7 separate regions of the Homo sapiens genome follow, and regions 1, 2, 3, 4, 6 and 7 are each linked to region 5. Evidence: fine-mapped expression QTL. A gene starts in region 5. Each other region holds a variant in brackets. All regions are shown on one strand. Distances are from middle to middle.

Evidence for each region. PIP is the estimated chance that this variant, and not a neighbour inherited with it, causes the effect.
Region 1: its variant is fine-mapped to the expression of EPHB6 in whole blood (TOPMed, PIP above 0.99).
Region 2: its variant is fine-mapped to the expression of EPHB6 in skin (TwinsUK, PIP 0.93).
Region 3: its variant is fine-mapped to the expression of EPHB6 in whole blood (TOPMed, PIP 0.94).
Region 4: its variant is fine-mapped to the expression of EPHB6 in whole blood (INTERVAL, PIP 0.95).
Region 6: its variant is fine-mapped to the expression of EPHB6 in whole blood (INTERVAL, PIP 0.98).
Region 7: its variant is fine-mapped to the expression of EPHB6 in blood mononuclear cells (TOPMed, PIP above 0.99).

What each region holds. Positions count from the first base shown.
Region 1 is chr7:142,815,268-142,819,345 of GRCh38, reverse strand. It overlaps LOC105375541 (a long non-coding RNA gene), which reads right to left. Exons shown (of 2, transcript XR_001745392.2): 1 at 3,221-4,078; 2 at 1,910-2,590. Among named protein-coding and RNA genes, the nearest start is that of EPHB6, 38 kb to the left of the region's middle. The variant G/A (reference allele first, on the strand shown) is at 1,956.
Region 2 is chr7:142,886,081-142,890,158 of GRCh38, reverse strand. No RefSeq gene overlaps it. Among named protein-coding and RNA genes, the nearest start is that of TRPV6, 2.4 kb to the right of the region's middle. The variant T/AT (reference allele first, on the strand shown) is at 1,828.
Region 3 is chr7:142,810,240-142,814,317 of GRCh38, reverse strand. It overlaps LOC105375541 (a long non-coding RNA gene), which reads right to left and starts at 121. Exons shown (of 2, transcript XR_001745392.2): 1 at 1-121. It also overlaps TRB and TRBV30. The variant C/T (reference allele first, on the strand shown) is at 1,557.
Region 4 is chr7:142,925,512-142,929,589 of GRCh38, reverse strand. TRPV5 (transient receptor potential cation channel subfamily V member 5) reads left to right here. Exons shown (of 15, transcript NM_019841.7): 4 at 25-162; 5 at 470-568; 6 at 724-899; 7 at 1,356-1,502; 8 at 3,849-4,061. Among named protein-coding and RNA genes, the nearest start is that of TRPV5, 6.2 kb to the left of the region's middle. The variant AG/G (reference allele first, on the strand shown) is at 1,651.
Region 5 is chr7:142,852,846-142,856,845 of GRCh38, reverse strand. It overlaps EPHB6 (EPH receptor B6), which reads right to left and starts at 1,770. Exons shown (of 20, transcript NM_004445.6): 1 at 1,461-1,770.
Region 6 is chr7:142,907,279-142,911,356 of GRCh38, reverse strand. TRPV5 (transient receptor potential cation channel subfamily V member 5) reads left to right here. Exons shown (of 15, transcript NM_019841.7): 14 at 1,761-1,867; 15 at 2,549-3,256. The coding sequence ends at 2,843. Among named protein-coding and RNA genes, the nearest start is that of TRPV6, 24 kb to the right of the region's middle. The variant C/G (reference allele first, on the strand shown) is at 2,512.
Region 7 is chr7:142,825,980-142,830,057 of GRCh38, reverse strand. No RefSeq gene overlaps it. Among named protein-coding and RNA genes, the nearest start is that of EPHB6, 27 kb to the left of the region's middle. The variant G/T (reference allele first, on the strand shown) is at 1,765.

The DNA of each region.
Region 1 (4,078 bases), 38 kb after region 5:
TTCATCTTCTTACTGTTCTTCACCGATGTCCTGTACTTTCAGCCTCTGTACCTTTGGTCATTTCTGTACCATTCATCCTTTCTTGCCTTTTAATGTCATTTTTATCAGTCTAAAACCCTATGACTTCTCAAGGACCATCTCAGAGTCTGTCTCTTATGTGAAAGTTAAACTGAGCCTCATACCTGAAAGTAATCTCTTTCATAAACAAACTTTTTTGAGCTTATCCTGCTTGGGTTTTGCTAAGCTTCCTGGATCTGTAGGTGGATATTATTTATCATGTATGAAACATTTTGGCCACTATTTTAAAAATAATTGTTTTCTGCCACCACTTTCTCTCCTCTATGTTGAAGACTCCAATGATATGTGTGCTAGGTGGCTTGATATTGTTTGGGAGTTCCCTGAGACCTCTTCCAGTTTTTGTAGTTGTTTAGCTTTATTTTCCTCTCTCTTGTTTTGACAGTTTCTGTTGTCCTGATTTCCTGTTCATAGACATTTCTCCTATAGTGTCTACTCCAACTTAAGCTTATCTAGCAAAATTTTCATTTCAGATATTTTTCAGATCTAGAAGTTCTATTTAGCTTTTTTATAGTTTCTGTTTCATTCTTCATTATGTTGTGTTTCACTATAAATCCTTGAACATATTTAATAATAGCCATTTTAGTATATTAGCCATTTATAAGTCCCATTATTTTAATTTACCATCTCTGCCATTTCTGGGTTGATTTCAATTGCCTAATATTACTACTTAGCATAGACACATTTTCCAGCTTTTAAGTATATCCCATAATTTCTGACTGGATGCTCAACATTATGAATGTTACTTTTTTATTATCTGAATTTTGTTTTCTTCTCTCAAAGAGTGTTGAGCTTTATTCTAGTGGGCAGTTGACTTGCTTGCAGGTCAACTTGTCTGCTTTTCCTTTCAAGGGCTCTTTTAAGCTTTGTTAGGGTTAATGGACGGTAGACTTATTCTATGCCATTTGAGTCCTACTCTAAGTTATGGGCTTCCTGGGATACCTGTTCAATGTTCCAGGTATTCAACAAAGCTATTCTGATGGCTCAGAGCTGTATCTCTCTCAGCCTCGACCAAGATCTAGTAATTATTCATACTGTAGTTCACCAGCAGTTGTTAATTCTCCAGTACTTATTCTTTGCCTGCCCCTGTGGAGTTTCACCCAATGGATGCCAGCTTAGTATTTACCCAAAGACTCAATGAGACCTCATGAAAATTGCGGGGCTCTTTCCGTGCATGGCCTCCTCTTCTCTGAGCTGTGTCCTCAGCTCAGTAAGAATTTCAGGGTGCCATGCTCTGCTTGGGTCCCTCTTGTTTGTACAGTAACCCAGGAAATTCTGGGTAGAAAACGGAAATGATCACAGCACGCACCTCATTTGTCTCCTTTCACTTATGGATCACAGTTTTGTGCCATCTCTTGTCCAATATTAGAAAACAATTATCTCACGTATATTGCCCAGTTTTCTAGGTGTTTATTATTGGAGGGTATAATGGATTGAATTATACCCACCATCCCCCCAGAAAAAGATATGTTGACATCCCAACCCTCAGTACCTCAGAATGTGACTCTGTTTGAAAATAGGGTCATTGCAAGTGTGACTAGTTAAGATGAGGTCATACTGGAGCACTGTGGACTCCTAATATGACTGATGTACTTGTAAGAAGACAGCCGTGGGAAGACAGAAACACACAGGGAAAATGCCATGTAATGCCAAAGGCAGAGTTTAAAGTTATGTAGCTGCAAGTTAAGGAATGTCAAAATTTGCCAGCAAATCAACAGAAGCTAGGAATAGGCAAGGAAGAATTTCCTTCCAGGTTTCAGAGGAAGCATAGCTCTGTTGATACCTTGATTTTAGACTTCTAGGCTCCAGAACCATGAGACAATAAATTCTGTTGTTTTAAGTCACCCAGTTTGTGGTACTTTATTACAGCAGCTCAAGGA[G/A]AATTACAAAGTGGATGGATTGAGTACAAGTTCCTTCATCGTAAGTGGAAGCAGAAGTTCCTAACTCTTTTAGTATTTGTCATCTGAACTACTTTTCTATCTTTTACCTCCTCCAATAGATAAGTTATTAGAAGGCAAATATTGCTTCTTGATTTTTTGTTTTCCGTCTATCTAAGCTTGAATTTTATGTGCACGTAAGGTAGATGTGAAATTCATGGGCATCAAATATGGGTGGGTAAAATATAATTTTGTTTTCTATAATTAAAATTATTCTATATCTAGATCCTTGTTGCATTGGGGTACACATGATTAATTCAGGGGTTTCTCAGACAATTCATGCTTGTCTCCCTTTCCTTTTCTCCCCGGGTAGTGTCTAAATTCCAGGGTGCTTATAAAAGCGCTTGTCAAAGCATTGTGGGGAAGGTACTTGGTCTTTGGTCATCATTTAACTTTCCTTCATGACTCTCATTTGCACCATCATCAGCACCTGTCCCCACTGATATCTGCTGATCCTCGGTGTGTCTGTCTGTCTGTCCTTCAGGTTGTTTTGATCCACGGCGGGTACACTGTGCCTTACACATTTCAAACACGATGTCTCTTCAGGCTTGATGGCTTCTCTCAGTTAATCTGTTTCCCTGTGAATGAGAAAATGGCTATTCCTGATCTATCCTGAGATCTTTGGGGATTCTTGGAGACTACCTCAGGTCCCTCTGTTAAGACACATTCTAGAGCCATGTATGTTTTCCACTGCTGCTCTAATAAATTACTACAGACTTAGTGGCTTAAAACAACACAAACTTATTATCTTACAGTTCTGTAACTCTGAAGTCTGACACAGGTTTCACCGAGTTAAAATCAAGCTGTCAGCTAGGCTGCATTCTTCCCTGAGGGCTCTAGAAGAGAACCCATTTCCTTACCTTTCCTAGCTTCTAGAGGCCACCTTCATTCCTTAGCTCATGCCCCCTTCTACCTCCAGGGCCAGCAGCATGGCATCTCTCTTGCCTGCTTCCATGTCCACATCTCTTTCTTTGACTCTCTTCTGCTTCCTTCTTCCATGTTGAAGATGCTTGTGATTGTATGGGGCACACCTGATTAATTCTGACTACTCTCCCTGTTCTAAGGGCATCCAATTAGAAACCTTAATTCCATCTTCAACCTTAATTCCCCTTTGCCATGTAATCTAACACATGCACAGATTCTGGGGATTAGAATGTGGACATCCTTGGGAGCCATTATTCTGCTGACCACAAGTCATTTCTACTTACCAGTCTCTAGCCAGTATGACATGTAGGGACCCAGGACCTTGTTCGTCTCATTCTGGAAATAAGCACAATTTTCCTCTGCCGTCAAAACTTTTGAATTTCCATTTCTTCTCTCTCCACCTCTCTCTCATCCCTTTCCTTGATCAGGATGTGGATAAGAAGAGGTAAGTCACAATTCAGGGCATTCAGGAGCATCTAATTGGCTGACTCTCCCTTCTTTCCATTAGCCCAGGTAATTTTTAACTCTTCTGTAGAGGAACAAATAGGCTTTGCAAGTATCTTCCATTCCTATTATATAGGAATATATACCAGTTTTAAAATTAAAAAGACGAGTTAGTTCTTATTGCCATTCTCTTCATGTATAAAGCTTTCTCTTGTTGGCAGCAATTCATTAAGAATCTAGTATGGAGGGAAAAAGCTGAAGATGGTAACAAAAAGACTTGAAAAGAGGCTTGCCAGAGAGGTGGACACGTTAAGATGACCAGGACATGTTAAGATGACAGTTCCAGCCAGCTTTCAATTCCGTAGGGCACCTCCAGACCCAGGCCAGATGTGCGGCCAGGACTCTCCCATTAGTAGATCTACTGCCACAGAGCAGAGGGATCATATCCCCATCCTCTTTTCAATACATGAATGACTTAAATGATTGAATAACTAAACAGTATTGCAGATGGGGATGGAGATTGAGGAGATTTTTTTAAAGGCATCAGCCATATGGAAGGAGCTTCCAGCTACTGAGCTGTGACAATGATCAGGAGCCAGGAGCCAGCTGGTTACTCTGATCTGACTGATACATCTCTTCACCCTCCAATCTGCTGCAGCATCTCTAAGAAGGAGGATTACATTGCTGTCTACATGTGG
Region 2 (4,078 bases), 33 kb before region 5:
GTGTGTGTCTGCAGGTGTGTGTGTGTCTGCAGGTGTGTGTGTGTGCATGCACTAACTGTCATGGGCTCCTTTGCAGGCTTTATGAGTTGGCGCACGGCTGGTGAACCCAGTGACTGGAACAAACTCCAAGCTGAGTGAGTAAGCAATGCTTTTGACCTCACTACCCCTTGCTGGTTCCATCCCTCATGAGCAGAGAGCAAGGACACGCCCTCCAAGAGGCCAGGGGACACTGCCACAGGCCACACACTGACACTTGACATACCACAACACATATACCACACACACTATACAAATACACCAATACACCCCCAAAATACCACACACACTATAGAAATACACCAATACACCCCCAAAATACCACACACACTATAGAAATACACCAGTACACCCCCAAAATACCACACACATGCAATGCATGTACACACACACTACACACACACACACACACACCCCTCACCACAGAGACTAAGAGCAAGGGAGCAGAGATACTATTGCACAGTGACAGAGGCAGTAAGACAGGAAAAACTGAGCGAAACATAGAAAGACATAGGACAAATAAAAAGTGACAAAGCCAGAAAAAAACTATACATATACTTTTCTGGCTCTAAATCAGTGGTTCTCAATGGAGAATGATTTTGCCAATGTCAGCGTGTAAAGACATTCATGAGCAGCGTGTAAAGACATTCCTTGGTGGTCACAATGGAGGGGAGGGACATGCTACTGTCACCCAGTGAGTGGAGGCTCGGATGCTGCTAAACTTCCTACAATGCCTAGGACAGCCCTTGCAGAAAAGAATTATTTGTTCCGAAATATCAATAGTGCCGGGGTCGAGAAATTGTGCCCCAAATGCGGAAACATCGGGGGCACAGGAGCTCTTTGGAGCTCCTGTGCCTCCAGCTCAGGACTGTGTAACTGTGACCTCTCTGCCCCTCTCAGGGGCCGTCAGAGGAGGCTCTGACACTCTGCCCTGGGGCCCCCAGGGAAGCCTGAGGACCTCACTTTCACTTAGCATTTGAGGCTCAGCCCCAGGCAGGGAGGACTGGTTTAACCACCTGGTCCCCAGGTTGCCTGCTCCAGTCCTGTCCTCCCTCCCTCTTGGCTCCTGACCCCTTCGGTTCTCTTCAGGGCTTGGTCAGAGGCCACCACGAGGGCAGAAAAGAGGTCAGGCCATGCACTCATCATTATGGATAAAATCATTGAGAGGAAGAGCGACTCACTCAGAAGTCACACAAGTCTTATTATTTTTGGAGCCTGGGAAAGGGAACCGGGAGAGGCCAGCCCCGTGAGTGCTCTCCCAGGATCTCCAGTCTCCCCCTCACCACCTTCACCCCAAAACTCACAGCCTCCTGGGCATGCCCACTCCTTGACTGTGGGTTACAGAACCGATTCCTCCCATGTCAGGAGGTGCTGCCCTGGGGTGGAGTGGCACAGAGGGGGCTGTGCTAGTCTCAAGGGAGAAGGAGGTCCACGGCATCCTTCCTGTCCCCTGGAAACAAGCAATATGGGATGCAGGTTTAAGATGTGAGACTGAGGCTGGACGCGGTGGCTCACACCTGTAATCCCAGCACTTTGGGAGGCCGAGGCAGGCGGACCACAAGGTCAGGAGATCGAGACCATCCTGGCTAACATGGTGAAACCCCGTCTCTACTAAAAATACAAAAAATTAGCTGGGCATGGTGGCAGGCGCCTGTAGTCCCAGCTACCCGGGAGGCTGAGGCAGGAGAATGGCGTGAACCCAGGAGGCAGAGCTTGCAGTGAGCCGAGATCACGCCACTGCACTCTAGCCCGGATGACAGAGCAAGACTCCATCTCAAAAAAAAAAAAAAA[T/AT]GCGAGACTGAAAGTGATTGGTGGGGGTGCTTTCAGGAGCTTCTGGGGGTAGTGCCACCTACCCTAGGGCCACCTTCCCTTACTGATACGATGTTAGGTCCAAAGACCAAGAGAACATTGCAGCCAGAAGCTTATATCCTGCAAACTTGTCCTCCCCTCCCATCTGGACACCCCAATTTTGAGTCTGTTGGCTGATCCATGCACAACACCAGGTGGAGGAGGCTGAGGAAGAGGAAGAGCATTGGAAAACAACTTTGTCCTCCTCCTATCCTCCTCCCTCCCTAAGTCTCCCTCCCAAAGCCTCCCTCCCCCAGCCTCTCTCCCCAGCGTAACGAAGGCCTCATTGCTTTCTCTCCTTCCCCACCAGACACTAAACTGGGGTCTTTGAAGCTAAATAGGTCTTTGAAGCGACAAACCACTGGCTTAATGGGCACAAAGGTCTTGGGGTTCAAGGTTTGGGTTCTAGCACCTTCCCCCAACCCAGCCCGAACCCACTGACCCAGGTGGGTGGGGACGAAGCTAATCCAATTGAACTGTTTGCTCAGGACTGCGTGGCCTGGCCTCTGCCCAGCGGCAGGAACACAAATAGCTTTCCACTTGAAGGGGTCCTTCTCTCCCCTGCCCTACCTCAGCATCCACCTCCCTCCACACACCGACTCCCCCCACACACAGCACATATGACACACACCCCATGACATACATACACACACAACACACACCATACATACACACATAGTAAACCCACCATACACTACACAAATCATGTATACACCACACACACACACACACATCATGTACACGCACACATACCTTAAAGGTACCATATACATCACCCACTACACACCATACACACAACACACATGCAACAATCTTTCCACAATACGTATATACACAACACACATGTCACACATACCATCACAGACACCACATCCACACGCTCTACAGGCCATACCTACACATATCACATATATCATACACACGTAGACACATACCAAACACACCACAGGCACATCATATACATACAGCATACCACACACAAAACACCCCACCGATGCACATCATGAACACACGCATAAACACCACACACAAATGCACATGGGCACACACGCCATACACACGCCACACACACACTCCCCTGGCTGGGTCTTCCAACTCTGAGTCAGAGAAAGTTAGGACAAAACAGACTCTGAAGCTAGGAAGTGATCCACACACCTGTGACTCTGAACACCCAGACACCTGCCCCTAGGCTATTGGCACCTGGCTGGCACCAGGAGGTTGGATAAGCCCGGGCTTCTGCCCCTTTCCAGTGGAAAAGTTGAACTAAATGACCTTTCCGACAGCTTCCAGCAAGCTCATGATGGAGCTCTTTGTTGTGGGAAGACGATGGGCCATGCTTAATGCCATCATTCTTCTGTATGACTGTGCGAGTCACTTAACCTCTCTGAAGCTCTGTTGGCCAGTTAGAATGAGGAGGTGTGCTAGGGAGAAAGAAGTGGGCTTGGAATGAGGGATGGGTGTGAATCTTGCCTCTGCCACCTCTATGGCCTTGGGAGAGTTCCTTTACCATGGTGAGCTTTGGTTTCTCCCATCAATACAATGTAGATAATAATACCTGCCTTGCAGGTTTGTTACGAGTTTACCTGGGAACGCTCAGTTAAAAGGCCCAGCACACAGTAGCAGCTGAATGTCACCTCCACGGGAAGGCTGGCAGATAGAATACTTGCAAAACGTGGGGTATATTTATACTAAAAAATTCTTTGTTGTTTATCTAAAATTCAAATTTGACCACGTGTCCTGTATTTTATCGGGCACCCACCCCATGCACGGGGCATTGTGGACAGTCTGTGGAGCTCCTGAGCAGGGGGTCTGCCCAGAGCTAGATTTTGTGCCCTGGCTGGTGAGCGAAGAATGCATTTTACATCTTTGGGGGTGGTTAGAAAACAACCACCAAAACAAAACCAAAGAATAACGTACATTAGAGAGTGTACATGGCTTGCAAAACCTAACATCTTTACATTTCCTATCAGCCCTTCCAGAAAAAGTTTGCTGACCCAAAGGTGATGGGGACTGAGAGGAAAGTCTGGGAGAACTGAGTATCTTCGCAATTTATATACCTATTTCAGGCCTGGCAAGAATGAAACTGGAAGAGTCCAGAAAATGGAATTCTCCAGGACATAAGCAGGGGGAGGCAGAGAGTGAGGCAGGTGGTCGGCAGAAGAGGCACTGTGGGAAAGTGGGGCGCTCCCTCCTG
Region 3 (4,078 bases), 43 kb after region 5:
ATCCTTACTATTATGAATTCGTGGCTTGACTGTGTTTTTTGTGGCTCGTGATCCCTTCAGCCCCTACCTTCCACCCCATGCCATTGTAAATCTCCCAATCTTTGCTGCAGACATAGGGAGTCAAAAAAAAAAAAAAAAAAAAAAAAAAAAAAAAGCCAACATATGTAAGAGTGCCTGCCTGCAGTGCACCAGGCAAAATGCATCTTTCAACAATTTTTAGATATTGTCATCATTATTTTCACTTTATAGATAAGAAAATTGAGAATCAGGGTTTGCTTGAGAGTTCCCAAGCCAGCAAGAAGCAGAGCTGTGAAATGAACCCAAATCCATATGATTCCAAGTCTCTGTGATGTTTCCTATTACTCATATTGCATTTAGAGGATAAATTAGATCTAGTTGGCCCATTAGAGACACATGGAGCAGATTCCAACTTTGATCAGTTCAGGAGTTAATTATGCCTGTCCAGGTCTCAAAATCTGTCTGCCAGGGATGAAGATTATGCAGGCGATCCCTTTGGCTGTCATAGAAGCTTCCTGCCCTCAGAACTGAGCATTTCTGCTTTGATTACCCCAAAATACCTGAATCTCTTGAGCCCTATCCTTTCATCTCCCAGGTAACATGTCTAGCTCTAGTTTCCAATTTCAGATAAACTAAAATCTTTTTTCATCCTTCTATCAGTATCACAGTTTCTCTGAAGCTTTCCCAGGCTTCTGATGTCTCCCGGGGGAGCTGGAGAGTTACCTTTAGTTTACAGGTAAATAATGAGTCATTAAATATATTTACATACCAGGATGTCAGCAGGAATGCAAAGAAGATAACAAGTGCAGAGTATAGCTGGTTCCCAGGGAGGCTGGGGGTGATTCACCACACTCTTAAAAGAAGACTAGCCTCATTTCCTCCCCAGCTCATGGGGTAGGATTCCTCTGCTCTGGCAGCAGATCTCCCAGAGGGAGCAGCCTGACCACATCACTGGCCCAGAAGAGGAGGCGTCTGTCCCCCAGACTAGCTGAAGGAAAGGCTGGCTTGGATGATGCTCTGCTCTCTCCTTGCCCTTCTCCTGGGCACTTTCTTTGGTGGGTGCCCTCCTCTCTGGCAAGCCTCTTTTCTCATCCTCACCCTCACCCCAATCCCGTGAATGCAGAGTCTGAGCTGTTGGTTTGACACTCTTGAGTCTATTCCTGATTGTCTGGAACAGATATGGGAATTTAGCCTTAGGGGCTGATCTGATGATTCTTAGTTCTCTCTATCTCCTGAGAAGGAGTTCGTTCTGTTGGTCTTCCCTGGCCCAGGGATGCTTTGCATCCTTGGCTCCCCCAGTCTACTCCCCATGATGGATTCCAGGTGCCTGTGTCATGCAAGAGCTTGAGCTGCCCCTCTGTCTGGGGAAGGCAAGCCAGGCTGGGGTGCTCCTCTGTAAATGGCACTTTATCTTTCCCACAGGGGTCAGATCTCAGACTATTCATCAATGGCCAGCGACCCTGGTGCAGCCTGTGGGCAGCCCGCTCTCTCTGGAGTGCACTGTGGAGGGAACATCAAACCCCAACCTATACTGGTAC[C/T]GACAGGCTGCAGGCAGGGGCCTCCAGCTGCTCTTCTACTCCGTTGGTATTGGCCAGATCAGCTCTGAGGTGCCCCAGAATCTCTCAGCCTCCAGACCCCAGGACCGGCAGTTCATCCTGAGTTCTAAGAAGCTCCTTCTCAGTGACTCTGGCTTCTATCTCTGTGCCTGGAGTGTCACACTGAGCTGGGTGGGGCAGACATCTGTGCAAAAACCCCACCCTCTCCTGAGCCCTAACCATACTCCCCAGGGGCCTTCACTTAGGGACTGGGTGGAGGATATTTGTAAGTAGGTTTCTGACTGCTGGCCAATGTGAAAGCAATGGAATAAAGCGAGAATTCTACAAAAGACTCTACTAAGTTCTCAGGGAGAACAAAAAATTGTATGTGTGCAGAACCTGTGATTTGCCTGCACATAGTCAAGTTCTCAATGTATGGATGTCCCGGCCCAGGCTACCATACTCCAGCCCTCAAGGTGTGCTATACCTTGCCTGATTTTCTAGTCTTCCAAATTCTTCTATGTGTGCCGTGGGGAGGGGGTTTGTGCATATATGGCTGAGAGAAAGGATATACCTGTGGCAGGAGGTGAGCTGGTGAACAAACGGGAGGATGCCAACCCAGGTTACTTAATTGGTTAATTTCATCACCTGGAGAGTCTCCTGTCATTGATCTTTCTGCTGAGACTAGAAATTATGGGGAGGCTTAGACCTGAGGCTTTGAGTCAGGCAAAGAGGCAAGATGTTCAGGAGACTGTTCTCATTCGAGGCAGAAGTGTGGTTTTGTTAGTATAGGTAACATGCACTTAGGCCAGACGTGGTAGCTCATGCCTGTAATCCCAGCACTTTGGGAGGCTGAGGCAGGAGGATCACCTGAGGTCAGGAGTTTGAGACCAGCCTGGCCAATATGGTGAAACCTGTCTCTACTAAAAGTACAAAAATTAACCGGGCGTGGTGGCAGGCGTCTGTAATACTAGCTACTTGGGAGGCTGAGGCAAGAGAATCACTTGAACCTGGGAGGTGGAGGTTGCAGTGAGCCAAGATCATGCCACTGCACTCTAGCCTGGGTGACAGAGCGAGACTCTGTCTCAAAAAAAAAAAAAATAAAAATAAGCTTGCACTTAGAAATTTTGGTGATGTTTGAGGTTTTAAAAAATGTCCTGTTGTACTATCTTGTAGCCCTTCCTTTGTAGCAAAGACAGACAGATGGTGATCCAAGAGATACGCAAGAAGAGGACCGTGTGTGTAATGGTTGAGCTCTAAAAAAGAGAAATCACTTGGATGGAAATGAAGGAGAGGAAAAGGCTGATGTGGATGGCTGGGAAGAGGTTCGATGGTTACCTTGGCAACTGAGCTTCCTTCCTCATCCCCATCCCTCCCTAGTCCTTGTTCTTAAAAAGATTTTCTTTCTAATGTCCCTTCCCCTCCACAAGGGGGCACAAGATGTCTTAAAATACTCCATTCCGGGCATCATTTAACCTAGATCAATCCAGACACGTGCATATTTCTAGTATCATTTAATCTGAAGTGGAAAATCTGAGATGTAGACACAGAGTGATCAAGAACATATGGAATAATGCCCAGGGGTCCCTACTGAACTTTAAGGATCACCTATGTATTAAGCAGCTATTATTTGCTGGACACAGTGAGTCATTTTGAGGATTAAAAAGAAAAATAAAATGTACTCGAGATGGTGTTGGGCACAGTCATAGCATGATTTAGTCAAAGCACTTGATTTTTGTAGTCTAAAAATTTGCTAGTTGTTATGAACTTGACCTAGTTATTTAATTTTACTAAGTTTCAAGTTTTTCCCCACCTATAAAACTTGCCTCATTGAATTGTTATGTGTATTAAATGAGATGGTGTTTATAAAGCCCTATTACAAGCTCTAATTTTCAACAGGTATTATTTTCCGCTCCTTAAGCTTACAAGATTATTTTCATTACAACTTACCCAAGAGGAAGACTTAGTTAAAAAATTTCAAATCATAAACTACAAGTATGTAATAAATATTAATATTTAAAATGCTAAACATGCTTGGATGGCAAAACCATGAAACTTGAACCCTATGCTGTGCCTATTCAGATGCTGATTCTGTAGGGGCTTTATACAGCTTCAGAATCCTCATTAATAGAGAAATGTCTCAGGCAATCACCACTAGTCAAGTAGAATTAGTAGAGACTTGAGGCAGATTTTTCCTTCCTGTAATATACTGCAAAAATTCTGGAAAACTTCACAAAGGACATAAAATTGTAGCTAAGTTTAGCTCTTTAGGAGGCTAATAGTTATATAAGCAAAATGACATTGCAAGCAGGAGAGTCAGTTTGTGTAGAAATGTGCAGGTCTATGTGAATATTGTAAGTTTTAGAGAATCTGAAGAAAAAAAGTCCTGATCATTGCACAGAGCATCCTAGAGACAGGTGAGCATTGAAGGAGAGGCTTGAAAGCCACCTAAATTCAGCAGAACAAATTAACATCCTCCATGTTATCTGCTCTTATTCATGCAAGACTGTTCATTCCCATAACTG
Region 4 (4,078 bases), 73 kb before region 5:
TGATGATGGCTGTCTCTGGGCCAGGTCAGACTGCACTGCACATCGCTGTTGTGAACCAGAATGTGAACCTGGTGCGTGCCCTGCTCACCCGCAGGGCCAGTGTCTCTGCCAGAGCCACAGGCACTGCCTTCCGCCATAGTCCCCGCAACCTCATCTACTTTGGTGAGAGCAGGGTTGGGCTTGAAGGATGGTTGGCTGGAGAGGCGGGCAAGGCAGAGGGAGGCCAGGGCATGAGGGTCCTGCCTTCAGCTCCATCTGTTGGGCAGTTGAGAGGGGCAGCCCTTCTAGGGCTTAATTAAGCCAGAGGCCCATTCCCCTGATGGTTCCTTCCTCTGGTTCTGCTGGACGAGTGTCCCTCAGCCTAGAACTGAGATATGGGGGATGAGGAGGAGGCCCTTATTTGGGGGAGACTGCCCACCCCATCCTGCCATCCTGCGTTCTCCTGCCATGGATCTCTCTGTGTCCACAGGGGAGCACCCTTTGTCCTTTGCTGCCTGTGTGAACAGCGAGGAGATCGTGCGGCTGCTCATTGAGCATGGAGCTGACATCAGGGCCCAGGACTCCCTGGGTAAGAGCTGGGATGGGGAGGGGAGCTGGGATGCTGTGGGGAGCGAGGGACAGGGTAAGGAGTGGAGCTGGGACCTTTAGGAAGACCCCAGAGTGGGGATGGGGACATCAGGGACTTTAGGCCAGTGGCCACATGATACCCTGCGTCCTCCCCAGGAAACACAGTATTACACATCCTCATCCTCCAGCCCAACAAAACCTTTGCCTGCCAGATGTACAACCTGCTGCTGTCCTATGATGGACATGGGGACCACCTGCAGCCCCTGGACCTTGTGCCCAATCACCAGGGTCTCACCCCCTTCAAGCTGGCTGGAGTGGAGGGTAACACTGTGGTAAGAGACGCTCCCCATCCCTGAGGTGTCTTTCTAATGACCCTCAACCTATCCTGCTGGCCCTGGGAGAAATAGAGGTGAAGGGCCCACCTTTCTCTAAAATCCCTTTTCCCCAAACTCCCCAAAGGGATGGTGGTCCCTTGCTTCCTATTCCATCACTGAAATCTTCAGCTTCATGGTCCTTGACTCAAGAGGATTTGAGAACCTTACCTTAATGCATGTGCTGTGATAACCCAAAGCTCTAGCTTCCTTTGCCTATTTTCTTCTTTCTGCACTTTCTGGGGTTTTGGAGCAGGAAAGATGACAAAAAAGGGAAAGCTTGTAGATGCAGAGGTTTGCTGGTTCCCACTGTCTGTCTGTCTCAAGGGGTGGGCAACTGGCTCCATCCAATGGAGTTGTTCTCCTCGACCACCTTCTCACACGTTGGCCCCCTGACTCATCCTGGTGGTCTCTCAGATGTTCCAGCACCTGATGCAGAAGCGGAGGCACATCCAGTGGACGTATGGACCCCTGACCTCCATTCTCTACGACCTCACGGAGATCGACTCCTGGGGAGAGGAGCTGTCCTTCCTGGAGCTTGTGGTCTCCTCTGATAAACGAGAGGTATGGATGCCAAGGAGGATCAGGCCTGTCATGTGAGGGAATTTAGTGTTTGTGCAGAGTCTGTCCACTTACTAAGATCCTGGGCCTGAGACACTTCCCAGCCTTATAATAGGTGGAGATGAGAATAGTCTCCTGGGACATGGGGGAA[AG/G]TCCAATGCACACTCCTCTCCTGAATCCCCTGTCTCTCTGCTTAGCTCCAGTCCCTTCTGCCTACCTTTCGCCTTCTATCATTTCAGATGAGAAACTCCAAATAAGAGCTGTTTCCTCATATTCATTCATTGGTTCAGCATTGATATGGTTTGCATTTGTGTCCAAATGCAAAAATTTCATGTCAAATTGTAATCCACAGTGTTGGAGAAGGGGCCTGGTGGGAGGTGATTGGATCATGGGGACAGACTTCCCTCTTGATGTTCTCGTGATAGTGAGTTTTCACAAGATCCGGTTGTTTAAAAGTGTGTGGCACCTCCCCCTGCTCTCTCTTCCTCCTGCTCTCTCTTCCTCCTGCTCCGGCCATGTAGGATGTGCCTGCTTTCTTCTTGGCCTTTTGCCATGATTGTACGTTTCCTCAGGCCTCTCCAGAACCTGTACAGCCTGCAGAACCATGAGCCAATTAAACCTTTTTATTTATAAATTACCCTGTGCCAGGTAGTTCTTTATAGTAATATGAGAATGGACTAATACAAGCATATTGAACACCCGCTGTATGTCAGGCACTGCACAAGAAACAAACAGTACAGAAATAAATACAACACAGTTCCTGTTCATCAACTTCCTCAATTCTCAGTCCCTGTCCTGAATAATTGCAACAGAGCATGACATATGCCGTAATAGTTGTGTGTACCATGCATGCAGACAGCCACATTGAGGTAGAGTTAACTTGGCTTGGATAGACCAGAGAAGATGTCACAGAGGAAATGCTGGGGCTGGATCTTCAAGGAAGAATTGGGAGTCACAGGAAGATGAGAGAAAAAAAAGAGCTTTTTAGAGAGGGAGCAACGTATAGACCATTCAACAATGCTGGGTTGAGTGATGTGAGGGAAACGAAAATTTGTTGAAGACTGCAGTAGAGAGGAGAAAAGACTTCCAGGTTTCAGAACGTTCCATGAGAGTGCCAAGATGTAGTTTCTGTTTTGTATCTGCCACAGTGACAATTTCCCAGGAATCCTTATAGATCCAGAAAACATGAATGATTATTAATACTAACGAATAGAAGAAAAGTTGAGTGGCTAGTTTGTGAGATCTTCCTCAGAGAATATCCCTGGAAACAGATACACTTTGAGCAGGATTTCTTAGGTATTAAAAGCACAATCCCACTGTGTGGATTTCGCCACCACATATCCTTGGTCTTTGATTTAAGCTATTCTCAATATTCTCCAGCAGGTTTCATAAGTGTCTTGGGTCAGTTGCTTTTTTCCTCCATAAATCTTCCTTTCTAGCCCCCTTTCACATCCTTCACTACCTTCAGCTGCAGTTCAGAAGACCTAGACTCCTGATTTAGGACAAAAATAGAGGCTTTCTGGCTGGGGATCCTTCAGCTTCCTGCCCTACACTGCCGAGCATGTCTGGAAACTGCCCACTGTCTCTCTCCTCCCCTCCAGCTTCAGTAGAAAAGATATTCATGCTGTTAATGGCTAATCACTCTACTGTGCTTTGAATCTGTCTCTTTCTAATTTCTCAGATGCCTCCTCCCGTCCATCATCCCCTCTCCTGTGTATCTTTAACGTCTCACTGGCTGCTTATTTCAGAGCACCATCCCACCCTGCCACATCCTACTGCCTGTAACCTCCATTGCTTCTTTCCAGCCCAATAATACTTCTAGAGCAAATCTGACCACTTCCCTGCTTGAACTCCCCAGTTGCTTTCTGTTATATTTAGAAAAAACAAAAAATGCAAACTTCCTACCTTGGCATTTATGATGCATGATGACCTGGCCCTGTTCTTCCTCAGTCATTATCATTTCTGACTACCACTCCCAATAGATTCTCCCCTCTCCCCAACCACATCTCAACTGCAAATGGGCAATGGCTTCTCAGACCTTCCTGACCTGGCAACTGCTGTTAGCTTATGGTATGATCTTTCCTAACTCTCCCTTTACTCATCTAACTACTACTCATCCTTTAAATCCTCTTTGGTGCTATGGTGCCTTGTGTTTACTGCTATAGTCATTTACCTGTATCACTAGCACAAGGCCCAGCCATATGCAGGAAATATACTATTTGTCCGTCAAATAAGTGACTGATGAGCTGAGTGAGTGATGGTTGCTGCCCTGCCTCTTCTGGCCCCCAGTGGGATAAACAACATCCTTCTGTGTTGGTCACCCCAAGTTTCACTCTACTTCCATGCCAGGCTCGCCAAATTCTGGAACAGACCCCAGTGAAGGAGCTGGTGAGCTTCAAGTGGAACAAGTATGGCCGGCCGTACTTCTGCATCCTGGCTGCCTTGTACCTGCTCTACATGATCTGCTTTACTACGTGCTGCGTCTACCGCCCCCTTAAGTTTCGTGGTGGCAACCGCACTCATTCTCGAGACATCACCATCCTCCAGCAAAAACTACTACAGGTGATTCTCCTCAGAAG
Region 5 (4,000 bases):
CCTGTGGCAGAAGATGCACATCAGTGCTGGTTCCGGAGTGGTTCCATGGGCCCTTCTTCCTCACCTTCGGCCCCTGCTCTACCCCCAGTCTGGCTGTGAGTTGCTCTTGGCCCCAGGAGGTACTTCTGCAGAAACACCTGGGCTGGGAGAGGGAGCCAAGTGGGGGGCGGGGAGGAGTGGGTAAAGAAAGGGAAACCTGAGGCTTCCCAAACCCTCCAGAACCTGCCATCCTCCTTCTACCTAGAGTGGGAACTCAGGGTCTAGGGCCCAGGCTCAGGACAGAGTGATAGCAGAACAGCCGTCCCAGAAGGAGGATCCTGCCTTTCCCATGCTCAGCCCACCCCAGCCTGTTGCTCCCCAGCATTCTGGTAACTCAGTGTCATTGCCAACCATCTTTTTGCACCCTGAATGGAGTAATAGACTCCAAACAAGTCCTCCTTCTGAGGCCACCAGGTAAGTACATAGACACCCCCACGCTAATCTTCCTTTGAGAAAAAAGGCCCACTGCTCTGAAAAGCCAAGTGGCCCCACTGAGCAGCACTCAGAAGCCTCAATGCTCCAATGCCCCTTACTTGGGCAGCTTCTGTGGTCTACTAACAGCCCCACACAGCTCCCTCCCACTGGTCTCTCAGCTCAGGACCAGCATCTCCCCTCCTAGAGCCTCAGTCAAGTTCCCCTGGCGGGCGGAGGGCCTGGGTTAACTGGGAACAGACCCAGCAGCTCCGCTCCATGGGCGCTGCCAGGGACATTACAACATTGCTATGCTGGGTCCATGCCAGCTCCCCCAGGGATGGGAGGAGAGAGGGTGCCAGACGGCCAAGATCGGTGGGTGGGGGTGTGGGGCAAGCAGGGCCAAGCACCCAGATGGAGGGAGCAGAGCGAGGGTGGAGCTGGGGCAGGAGCACGCAATAGAATTTGGTTGCACGTTGGGGGTGATGGCTGGGCAGCAGGAACCAAGCGTTCCTTCCACCTCCAAGGCTTAACTGTGGTCATGGAGCTGGGGGGGACAGTGCCTTGTGGGGAGCAGGGGACAGGTGTGTGGTCAGCCTCCTGACTCCTCCCAGCTCCAAGGGGATTGGAGTGATGCCACTGGAGTCAGAGGGGTGGCAATCCTGTTCCAAGCGTGGAGCTCCGTCTCTGCGAGGACCCTCCCAGATTAGGACTCCCAAGCCAGAGCCAGAGGAGAATGTCTGGGAACGCAACTGGGGGATCCTAACAGCAAGGGTAATGCGGTGTCAATGATGCCAGGTCAGAGTGGAGTGAGAGGGGAGTAGCCAGGTTGACCGTTTCCTCACCCTTCATGAACCCCACTCTGGCCTTGAGGAAGGATCCTCAGTACTCCCTCAGGAAGCCACCTAGGGGCTGAGGAGCCCCACTACTCTTGCAAACCTTAATTCCTCTGTCCCCAAGCATACTGTCCCCGACCCCCACAACGCCGCCTGCTAACCCCGCGGGCTCACCTTCCCGTTGGCCGCAGTCTCTGCAGGTCTGCGCCCCCCGAGGCCTCGCAGTGGACCCGGGGCTCCTGGAGCTCGCACGGTGCCACCCGCGTCTTCTCCAGTCCGGGGACCCCGTTGCACCCGGCCCGGGTCCGTTCGGCGCCGAGAGTCCCTGGGATTCCGGGGTGGACCTGACGCTGGCGGCAGGGGCTGCTCCAGAGGTGGGGCGCCGGGAGATCCTGGGGGCCCGCGTCGAGATCGCCGTCGCCAAGCTGGGTCCCGGGTCCCGCCGCCCGCTGCTGTAGAGCCGCGGCTGGAGCGAACGCAGCCCGGCCCGCCCCCTCCGCGTCCCCTCCCAAGCCGGCCCGGCCCGCCCCTTCAGCCCCTTTGGCCGCCTTCCCACTCCCTTCTTCCGGGGAGCCGAGCCCGCCCTCCCGGCCTAGGCGGTGAGTGCGCGGCGCCCGCTCCTCCGCCCCGGCGCGCGGGGGAGACGCGGGGCGCGCCCGGGGCCCCGCCTGTGCGCCGGGAAGGGGGCGGCCTCCTCCCGCGGGTCTTGGCCGGGAGGATCGCACGCGTGGGGCGCCTGCAGGAAGTGGGAAGGGAAGAGGCTGTCTGTAAAGCCCCTGCCTGGGCTCGGGCTCGGGCTCGGCTTGGGTCGGACACCCGCGGAGCGAAGCGCAACTGGCGGACCGTGGCAGTTCAGGGCAGGGCAGAGCCCTGCACACACCCCCTCGCGCCTCCCTCCTCTTCGGCTTTAACTCTAGGAACTAAAACAGTGGGGCTCCTACTCAGCTTGGAACTAAGGTGGGCGTGAGCTGAGCAAGAGAGAAGGAAGGAAAAGCAGGGGGTGGAGGGAAAGACAAACTGAGAAATCTGGGAGAGTACGGGCGGTGGTAGGGGGAGCCGAGGCAGCGGGAGAGGGGGGCGTCTCGGTATGAAAGCGTCGCCGTGCTAGCCGGGAACTCTTTTCTCTTTTCGTGTCTGGATCTTGGTCAACGTTGGGGCTTCTGAGTCGAACCTCCCTCCATCTACCCTCCCCAAGGGGCAGGGCAGTCGGGTTGAAAAGGGGAAGCGCTGCTGTACGCCTGGCTCTGACATGGCTTGGGCAAGTCGCTGCACCTCTGGGTGCCTCCTCCCTCGCCCGCGCTCCGGAGAGAACCTCCCTGCAGTGAGGAGGGGCGGTGCAAGGTGCTCTCAGCTGGCGCCTGGAGGCAGGGTTGAGGAACCGAGGGGGCGCCGCGAGGAAAAGTGTTTCCGCCCACCTCTAACCCCTTCTCTAGCCGAGGACGGGGATTTGGGGTCTATTGTTTGGGTCCTACAGAGCTGGGCTGGGGCCTTGCCACGAAGTGTTGCTACCACCTGCTGGTTTTTCTAGGGAGCACAAGCACCCGGTGCGATTCCCTTTGCCCCCTTTTCTCCCTGTATCGCCCTGTCCCATCTTGCTCTCCTGTTTATTAAAGCAAATGGGCTGATCAAAACTGGTACTTAAAGAGCATTCAGAAGCCGAAGAAAATTGTGAAAGAGATCTATGAGCCAACAAACACAATAAACAAAACAATGAAACTCAGTAAGAGTCACCTGGGAGAGACAAACAGGCTTTAATGAATTGACTGAATGAGTGATAGAAAGATAAAGGCTACCGAGCAAGTTCCCACTTGGCCAGGGGTTTGTTCACTCTTAATATCAGGAGTCAATAAATAAGTCTGATAGTATTTAATGACTGCATTTGGACGTCATTAATAATTCCACTTGTACTGACGGTTCTACTTTATCTTGTTTCTTCCCTTTGCCCTGAAACTCAGTGGTGGAGGGCTTCCTTCATTTTCTGGTTATCTCCAAGGCTTTCAAAGACTTCTGCAAAGAAACAGAATTTGCATTGTGTGTGGAATTACGTAACTCATACATTAACATGCCTGATTGCTAGACATCTATGGTTATATTGAAAACTTAAAAAAAAGACACATAACTAGATTATGTTAAAATAAAAATATGGACAAAACCAAACCGTAGTTGTTACTTTATAAAACCCAGAAATTCCTGTAGTAATTTGCAACGTATCCTGTATTGACATAACAGTAAAAATATCTGCCTTCTTTTCTATTTCATGATATACCTCATATTAGGTGACTATAATATGAAATGAAGTTTTTGCTGCTCAAGGCTTGTGTAATTAGTTATATTTGTCTTGTTAATAAAATTTGAGAGGCATCTAGTTTTCAAAGGAAGTGTCATACTCAGGATGCAAAGAGGTTTAAATTTGTGATTAGTCGGCTTTGCATCCTAATTGCCTATGTCTTATCAAACCAAGTTTTAATGGTAGGTGGAGAGCATAGAATGCATTGTTAAAGTATGCTGCAACCTGCAGCTATTAAAAAGCAAAGTAATGAATTCCTTTTTAAAGTTTAATGTAAATTTTTTGCTATAATTTGTTTGGTGCCTGGGACACTCCAGGTGCTTAGAAGTGTTATAGAATGAATCAATAAAAAATAATATTTAAACTTTTTCTATGTGGATGGGCACAGTGGCTTATGCCTGTAATCCCAGCACTTTGGGAGGCTGAG
Region 6 (4,078 bases), 54 kb before region 5:
TTTTTAAACAGGGGGAAGAGGATGTGTTAGTCCTCATAAATGGGAAGTTTAGAGAATTAAACTAACTTTAGAGGTATCTGGCCAGAATGCAGATCCACATCTTATACATTACATCCATTCCTCTGTTCGGCTCTCTTTTGACCTCTCTTCTAAGGCAAGCTCTCCCATCGTGTTTGTGAGATCATTTCTAGAAGCTCCAAACTCCAAAAAGAATGAGGATGTGCAATGCAACACGCAGCTCCGAGGGCCCCACTCACGTTGTATTCTGTGAGGCTCCTGGTGCCAGGCAAAACTGCAGGCTTTAAAAGAACATCTTTCCCCCTGCCAATTCCTTCCATGTTCCATCTCATGGGAACACATTCGGGTCATAGGCACATCGTTGAATCTAAGGAAAGACCAAGGACTAGATAGTGGAGGTGTTGGTGATGGTGGTGGAGGGGAGGTTTGGGGGAAAATAGATTAATTAAGCACAACTGTGTGAAGCCCAGTCCACTCAAACCAATGCACTAAAAGTGATGAGGGAGCAATTCCCTAAATGAAAAATGGGTGCTGTTACCCGAGGAAGGACGGGGCTGCATGATGGCTCAGGAGGAACAATAAACATTTCTTTCAAGGCAAAGAAGAACAGCTATCCAGGGTAAGAGCACAGAATGACTGGAAGTCCTGAGCTAGGAGGGAACTTGGTGCAATTAAGAAACTGAAAGAAGTGTGGAGTAATGAGGAAGATAGGGAGTAGAAAAACATGAGGTGAAGAATTTGCTATTTTGAAGATTGCACTCCTTCAATTAGGAAGCCTTCCTGGTTCTGATCTATTCTGATTGCACCCTTTTGTCCATGCTCTAATAGATCATGGTTTCTTTGAAACTAGAATAGTCCCCAGTATGATTAGGGCAATGCGGTACAAAGCGGGACTATGCCTTTCCTTACTTGGACATAATGCTAAGGGTACCTAAAGCTGAGTCAGGTCTTTTAGCAAATATACAAATGGCCCTTATTAAGCTTGTGATCAGCTAGCACTCCCACACCTTTGTTCTATGACTCACTTATCTAAGCTTCCTAAATGTAAATATAGGACCTTAGATTTGGTTTACTTAAATTTCTTGTTAATGATTTTACACCAGCATTCCAATCTAGCGAGATAATTTTATATTGCTTCTGTTGCCCCACATATTACATATCCCTCCCAGTTTTGTGTCACAGGCATATTTGATAAGCTTGTTTCCCATGTTTCATCTAAGTAATTAATGAGGGCTGAGCAAAGGACAGAACGTGTGGTGGACTTGCTACCAGAAATTTCCCTGCCAACTTGCAGTCATTAATCAACCCTTTTCCTTCCTAAGATGTGGATATTTAATTTGCTGAAAATTCCCTGAACAGTAACAGTATCAATTCATCCCCAAGATCGTAGAGATTCTCTTTAATCATTTTATTTAAATCGAGATAATTGGTCTGTGGCTTTTATATGAAAAAGAAGTTGAGATTAGTTTGGAGTGACTCATTCTCCATGAGTGAATAGTAATGTAAGGGCAACTATTTTATTCAAAACACTCACAAAAAATCCTCTCTCATTTCTTGATGAGTGAAGCTGGTTGCATGGTGCCTGGCACAGGCTGTGGGGTGAATAGGTGGCTGTTCTCACCACTGACCTCTAGTGTCCTATCTCACAGATTGCCTTTGGTTCCCTTTATCAGTGGCCTCAGTGCCTCTTTGAACCTCATGGCTCTTTCAGAGTTCTTCCTGTATCTCCTGCCTCCTTCCAGGTCGTGGCCACCACAGTGATGCTGGAGCGGAAGCTGCCTCGCTGCCTGTGGCCTCGCTCCGGGATCTGTGGGTGCGAATTCGGGCTGGGGGACCGCTGGTTCCTGCGGTGAGTGATGGTGTGCACATGCAAAACTGCAGATGTGTATAAGGCCACGGAAGCAAGGGTGACCGACAGGCGTCCTGGAGCCTACATTAGCCTGTCTAGGGGAGGGGGCTGGAGCTGAAGTGGAGGGGTACGAAGAATGCTGTGTGTACCTCAGGGCAGCCACGTGTAAAAGGTTGTGTGCATGTGTCCATGCTCAGACGTCAGCATGGGTTACCAGACTTGCTGTAACCTTGTTCTGAGCTGACCTTCATCTCCAGTGTACTTTTGGCTTGGATCTAACTTCCTCCTTCATATTCTGCCCTCATCTCCCGGCGTGACTCTCCTCTCTCCTCAAATTTACTTCCTGAATTGCATCTCGTCATCCTTGTGACACGCTTATCTATTAGTTGGCTCTGTTTTCTCTTTCACATTCCTACGTATTAGTAACACACAAACACACACACACCTGTGTGCGTCCTACCACCCTGCAAGCCCTGATTGCTCAGCCTCCATTATCTCTATCCCAGGTTAGCCTGCCCTCCATCACCTCCCTTCACTTGATCCCAGATACTCTTCCTGTTTCAACTCTGCTGCCTTATTTCTGCTTCCCTCTTGACCCTGCTTTCTAAATGGTCACCTCTACTTCTCCCCTGCCCATGTCTCCC[C/G]ACCTGGATTGAGTCCTTTCCCCTTTCCCCTTATCAGGGTTGAGAACCACAATGATCAGAATCCTCTGCGAGTGCTTCGCTATGTGGAAGTGTTCAAGAACTCAGACAAGGAGGATGACCAGGAGCATCCATCTGAGAAACAGCCCTCTGGGGCTGAGAGTGGGACTCTAGCCAGAGCCTCTTTGGCTCTTCCAACTTCCTCCCTGTCCCGGACCGCGTCCCAGAGCAGCAGTCACCGAGGCTGGGAGATCCTTCGTCAAAACACCCTGGGGCACTTGAATCTTGGACTGAACCTTAGTGAGGGGGATGGAGAGGAGGTCTACCATTTTTGATTAACATCGCTATCACTCTTGACCTTACTCCCGGTTGGCCTGGGGGCGGGGACAGAGACGGAGACCTCTGCCTATGCAAGTGTCTAACTTCTGTGCCTGTTAATCATGGGAGGGTGAGACAGAACAATCCCTAAAGGGTCATGCCTCACACTTCACATCAGAATTTCTGGCAATGGGCAATGGTCATCGATTGTCTCACGTATTTTCTGGGCTCTTGCAAGTCACCCATCTCAGGAAAAAGGAGGTTGGCAACTAAAGACATGAGGCAGGGATGCTAGATTAATGTCAGGACCATTTCTCTTCTGCCCCACGCAGCCCCTAGAAAGTAGTAAGCTGTGAGGCTTTTCTGGCTCCCCAGGGCTTACGTGGGAAGAGCCAGGCATGGCATAGAGGTTGTGGCCCTTCTTTTTTTCCCAGCCTCCTGTAGGTCTCTCTCTCCACTTAGCAAGCAAACACCAACTGCAATAAAAAAGTCTCCTTATTCTTGCCTTCTTTAATTTTTTACTGTGGCACAATACATGTCACATAAAATTTACCATATTATCCATTTTCAGATGTGCCATTCAGTGGCATTAAGTACATTCACATTGTTGTGTAACCATCACCATTATTCATTTATGGAACTTTTTCATCATTCGGAACTGAAACTCTAATCCCCATTGAACAATAACTCTCCAGCTATCTCTCTGCCCTGGTCCCTGATAACCAATATTCTGCTTTCTGTCTATGAATTTAACTATTCTAGGTATCTTATGTAAGTGGGATTCTGCAATCTTAGTCCAAAATTTGACACAGTTTGTTTATTTATTCATCTACCAATGGACATTTGAGTTTTTTCTACCTTTTGGCCGTTGTGAATAATGCTGCTATCAATATGGTATACAAATATCTGTTCTAGTTTCTATTTTCAGATACTTTGGGCATACACCTAAAAATGGAATTGCTAGACAATTCTTATGTTTAGTTTTATGAGGAACTGCCATACTGGTTTTCACAATAGCTTTCACCATTTTACATTCCCTTCTAATGGGTGTGAAGTGGCTTCACATTGTAGTTTTGATTTGCCTTTCCCTAATGACTAATGATACTGAGCACGTTTTTATACACCTATTTATTGGATGTTTATATACCTTCTTTGGAGAAATGTCTTTTCAGTTTATTTGTCCATTTTCGAATTAGGTTTTTGTTGTTGTTGAATTGCCTTATCTTTGCTTTTTGAGGCTCACAGTCTGAAG
Region 7 (4,078 bases), 27 kb after region 5:
CAACTTACTTTTTTCACTGAACAACATACCTTGGGGATATTTCCATGTTACCACATCTTGTTCTATTTTGTTCATTTTAACTGTTGTTAAAATGTATGTTATGGATATTTATCTGTCCAATTCTCTACTGATGGATATTTACATATTGCCTATACTTTGCCCTTTATAAGGCTATAACAGAAGTCCTGGCAAAATTTTCTGCCCACCTATGCATGTATTTTTATGGAATTGTTTCTGAGAAGTAAGTTGTTGAGTCAAATGTTATGTGCAGTTTTTGTTTTTTTTGTGTTTTTTTGTTTGTTTGTTTTTCGATACGGAGTCTTGCACTGTCGCCGGGCTGGAGTGCAGTGGCATGATCTCGTCTCACTGCAACCTCCACCTCACGGGTTCAAGCAATTCTCCTGCCTCAGCCTCCCGAGTAGCTGGGACGACAGGCACGTGCCACAATGCCCAGCTAATGTTTGTGTTTTTTTTTTAATAGAGACGGGGTTTCACCATGTTGGCCAGGATCGTCTCGATCTCTTGACCTTGTGATCCACCCGCCTTGGCCTCCTAAAATGCTGGGATTACAGGCGTGAGCCCCTGCGCCCGGCCATGTGGAGTTTCAATAAACACTGCCAAATTACCCTCCATAAAGACTGTTGCAGTTTACTTTCCAGCTGTGCATGAGAGCATGTTATTTCCCTACATGCTTGCCAACATCAGATACTATTGATTCTTTTAATTATGCCAATCTGATGGGTGAAATGGTGGGTTTTTAAAAACATTACATTCAACCGATCATTAGATCTAGCCTCTTTCTGTATGTATGTTGGCCTTCCTCAGTGCAGGTCTATCTTTTACGCATTTTCTCTTCTTTTCCTATTTCAGAGGAAAAAAGTTCCCCCTTCTTGATGTCCAATAATTAATCCACATGCCTCTTTGTTTCTCAAATATCTTCTTTCTTTAGCATCTTCAATTTTCCTGTCTTTATGTAGTTCTTCCTCTTGGCTTTCTATATAATCAGACTATAAATACGTTGGAATAAAAGACTGTATTCAACTCTACCATTCCCTTTAACCTCTCCCTTACTCGCTCTGCCCCTAAACTTGTCAAATGAGTGCTCTGAATCTGCTACTTTCTCCTCCTCTAGTCAACAACATCGGTGAAGTCATTCAGTCCTAATTTTACTGAATTTTTAAAGTTCTTTTAAATCCTGCTGCCACCTCTTTGTACCCACAGTCTCCTCTGAACTTCCAAGATACCATCCCATTTCTTGTCTTCCCTCTAGAACTACTTTCTTAATTTCTTAAGCTTACTTTTCCCCTCCTTTTACCTATAAGTGTGGATGTTCAACAGTTTTTATTTTTGGACCTTTGTTCCTTTTTCTTCACTTGTTGCTTTGGAGATCTCATCCATTCCAAACATTTCAACTATTTTCTCTCTGCGGATGACCCCTGAAGTCAGTATTTCTAGTCCTGGTGTCTCATTAAAAATCCAAATTTTCACTTGCACTTTTCTGATTGAATTGGACTCAATGTGACTTCAAGGTCAGAATGACAAATGACATTTAGTATCTTCCTCTCTCTCAAACTGAATTCTGTGATTTTATCAACTTTTTTTTTTTTTGTATGTAATGAGAAACAGAACATCTTACTTTCCAAGTAGTGAATTCTCCCTGGATAGAGACTAATTTTGTCTACTGAATACTTTGATGAGTCACTTTTGATGTAGGGGAATAGGTGAGAGGGCAACCTCAGGAAGGACTGAGCTTGTAGAGAAAGA[G/T]GTGGCTATGCAACTGCTTTCCAAGTGGTGCTGAGCTGCTGTTACACTTTTGTTTTGCTGGATACACTTTCAAGAGCTGAATTGTCTGGGGCTATAATGAGGATGGCAGTGGCTGTGGAAAGAAAGAGGAGGAAAAAGGTAGCTGGCAACCAGAATGGAAATTTGGCAAAAGAACAGACACGTTTAAGAGGGATTTTATGAGGCTCTGCCCTGCTCCACTGCATGCATGATATACTTGCTTACTTATCTCTCTGGAAAATCTTCAGCACAAAACCTTTTCTTACTGATTGATTGTGATTAATTGCAGTTAATTAGTTAAAATGTGGCATTAATTATTGACATTCTCTTGCTTAAATTTTCTCAGTGGTTTTCTGTTGTCCTAACACTGTATCAAAAATAATTCTTTCTTTTACAGCTTTATTAAAATGCACTTGACAAACAATAGACATCTTTAAAATGTACAATTTGGTAAGCTTTGACATACGCAAACACCTGGGAAACCATCATAAAACTTAATGTAATGAACTTACACATCACCTCCAAAAGTTTTGCTGTGGCCCGCTATTTATTTATTTATTTAAATTTCAACTTTTATTTTAGATACAGGGAGAACATGTGCAGATTTGTTACATGGGAATATTGCCTAATACTGAGGTTTGTACTGAGGTTTGAAGTACAGATCTTGTCACCCAGGTACAGAAGATAGTGCCTGATAGGTAGTTTTTCAAAACACTTCCCCTTGTCTCTCTCCCCCTTCTGGTAGTTCACAATGTCTATTGTTCCATTGTTTATATCCATGTATGCTCAATGTTTAGTTCCCACTTTTAAGTGATAACATGCGATATTTGGTTTTCCGTTCCTGGATTAATTTGCTTAGGATTATGGCCTCCAACTGCATCCATTTTGCTGCAAAGAACATAATTTCATTCTTTTTTTATGGCTGCGTACCATTCCATGGTGTATATGTACCACATTTTCTTGATCCAATCTACCATTGATGGGCACCTGGTTTGATTCCATGTCTTTGCTATTGTGAATAGCCTTGTGGCTTTTTATAATTCCATCCTTCTCTCCATGCTGTTCCCAGACAAACACTGATAGAGTGCTTCTTCTATTACTATAGATTTCTTTGTGTTTTCTAGAATTTAATATAATGCAATTATAAACTATGTACTCTTTTTTGTTTCTTTACTTTTATTCATCATATTATTTTGAGATTTATCTATGTTGTTTTAAATTTAAATAGTTCATTCTTTTTATTGCTAATTTTCCTTTGTGTGGATACATGACAATTTCAGCATTAGTTCGCCCATTAATAGGCAATTGGATTTTTTCCAAATTTTGACTATTACAAATAAAATTGTTATGAAAATTTGTGTCTTTGTGTGGACCTGTGCCTTTCTTTCTTTCTTTTTTTTTTTTTTAGACAGAGTCTCTGTCTGTCACCCAGGCTGGAGTGTAATGGCACAGTCTCGGCTCACCACAACCTCCATCACCTGGGTTCAAGCAATTCTCCTGCCTCAGCCTCCCGAGCAGCTGGGACCACAGGCATGTGCCACCACGCTCGGCCAATTTTGTATTTTTACTAGAGATGGGGTCTCTCCATGTTGGACAGGCTGGTCTTGTATTCCCTGCCTCCAGTGATCCTCCCGCCTTGGCCTCCCAAAGTGCTGGGATTACAGGCGTGAGCCACTGCACCCAGCAAACATTTCATTCCTTTAGTGTTATCTTTTCACCATCTAGTTTTAAATGTTGATGAAATTCAGCTTTTTTCTTTTATGCTTCATGCTTTTTGTGTTTTATTTAAGAATCACTAATAAGCCCAACATTACTGAGATTTTCTCTCATGTCTTCTTCTAGAACCTTTATAGTTTTAGCAAATCTGTTTAAATGTATAATCCATTTTGAGTGAGTATGTGTTGCTGGTATAAGGCAAGGTTGAGGTTTATTATTGTTATTTTGCATATGGTTAGCTAATTGCTCCAGAACCACTTACTGAAAAACTATTCTTTCCCCAGTGAACTGCCTTTTCAGCTTTGTTGAAAGTCAGTTGTCCAAATATGTGTGGATCTACTTTTGGATTCTCTATTCTGCTCAAAATTTTTTGACATAAAGTTGTTTATAATATTCCTTTAACATTCTTTTAATACCTGTAGATTTTGTAGCAGTACCTTCTCTCTCATTCCTAATATGAGTAATTTATATTTTCTCTCTTTTTTCCTGATTAGTCTGCTAGCACCCTATCGATTTTATTGATCTTCTCAAATAACAAACTTTTGGTTACTTTGGTTTTTCTTTACTGGTTTTGTGTTCT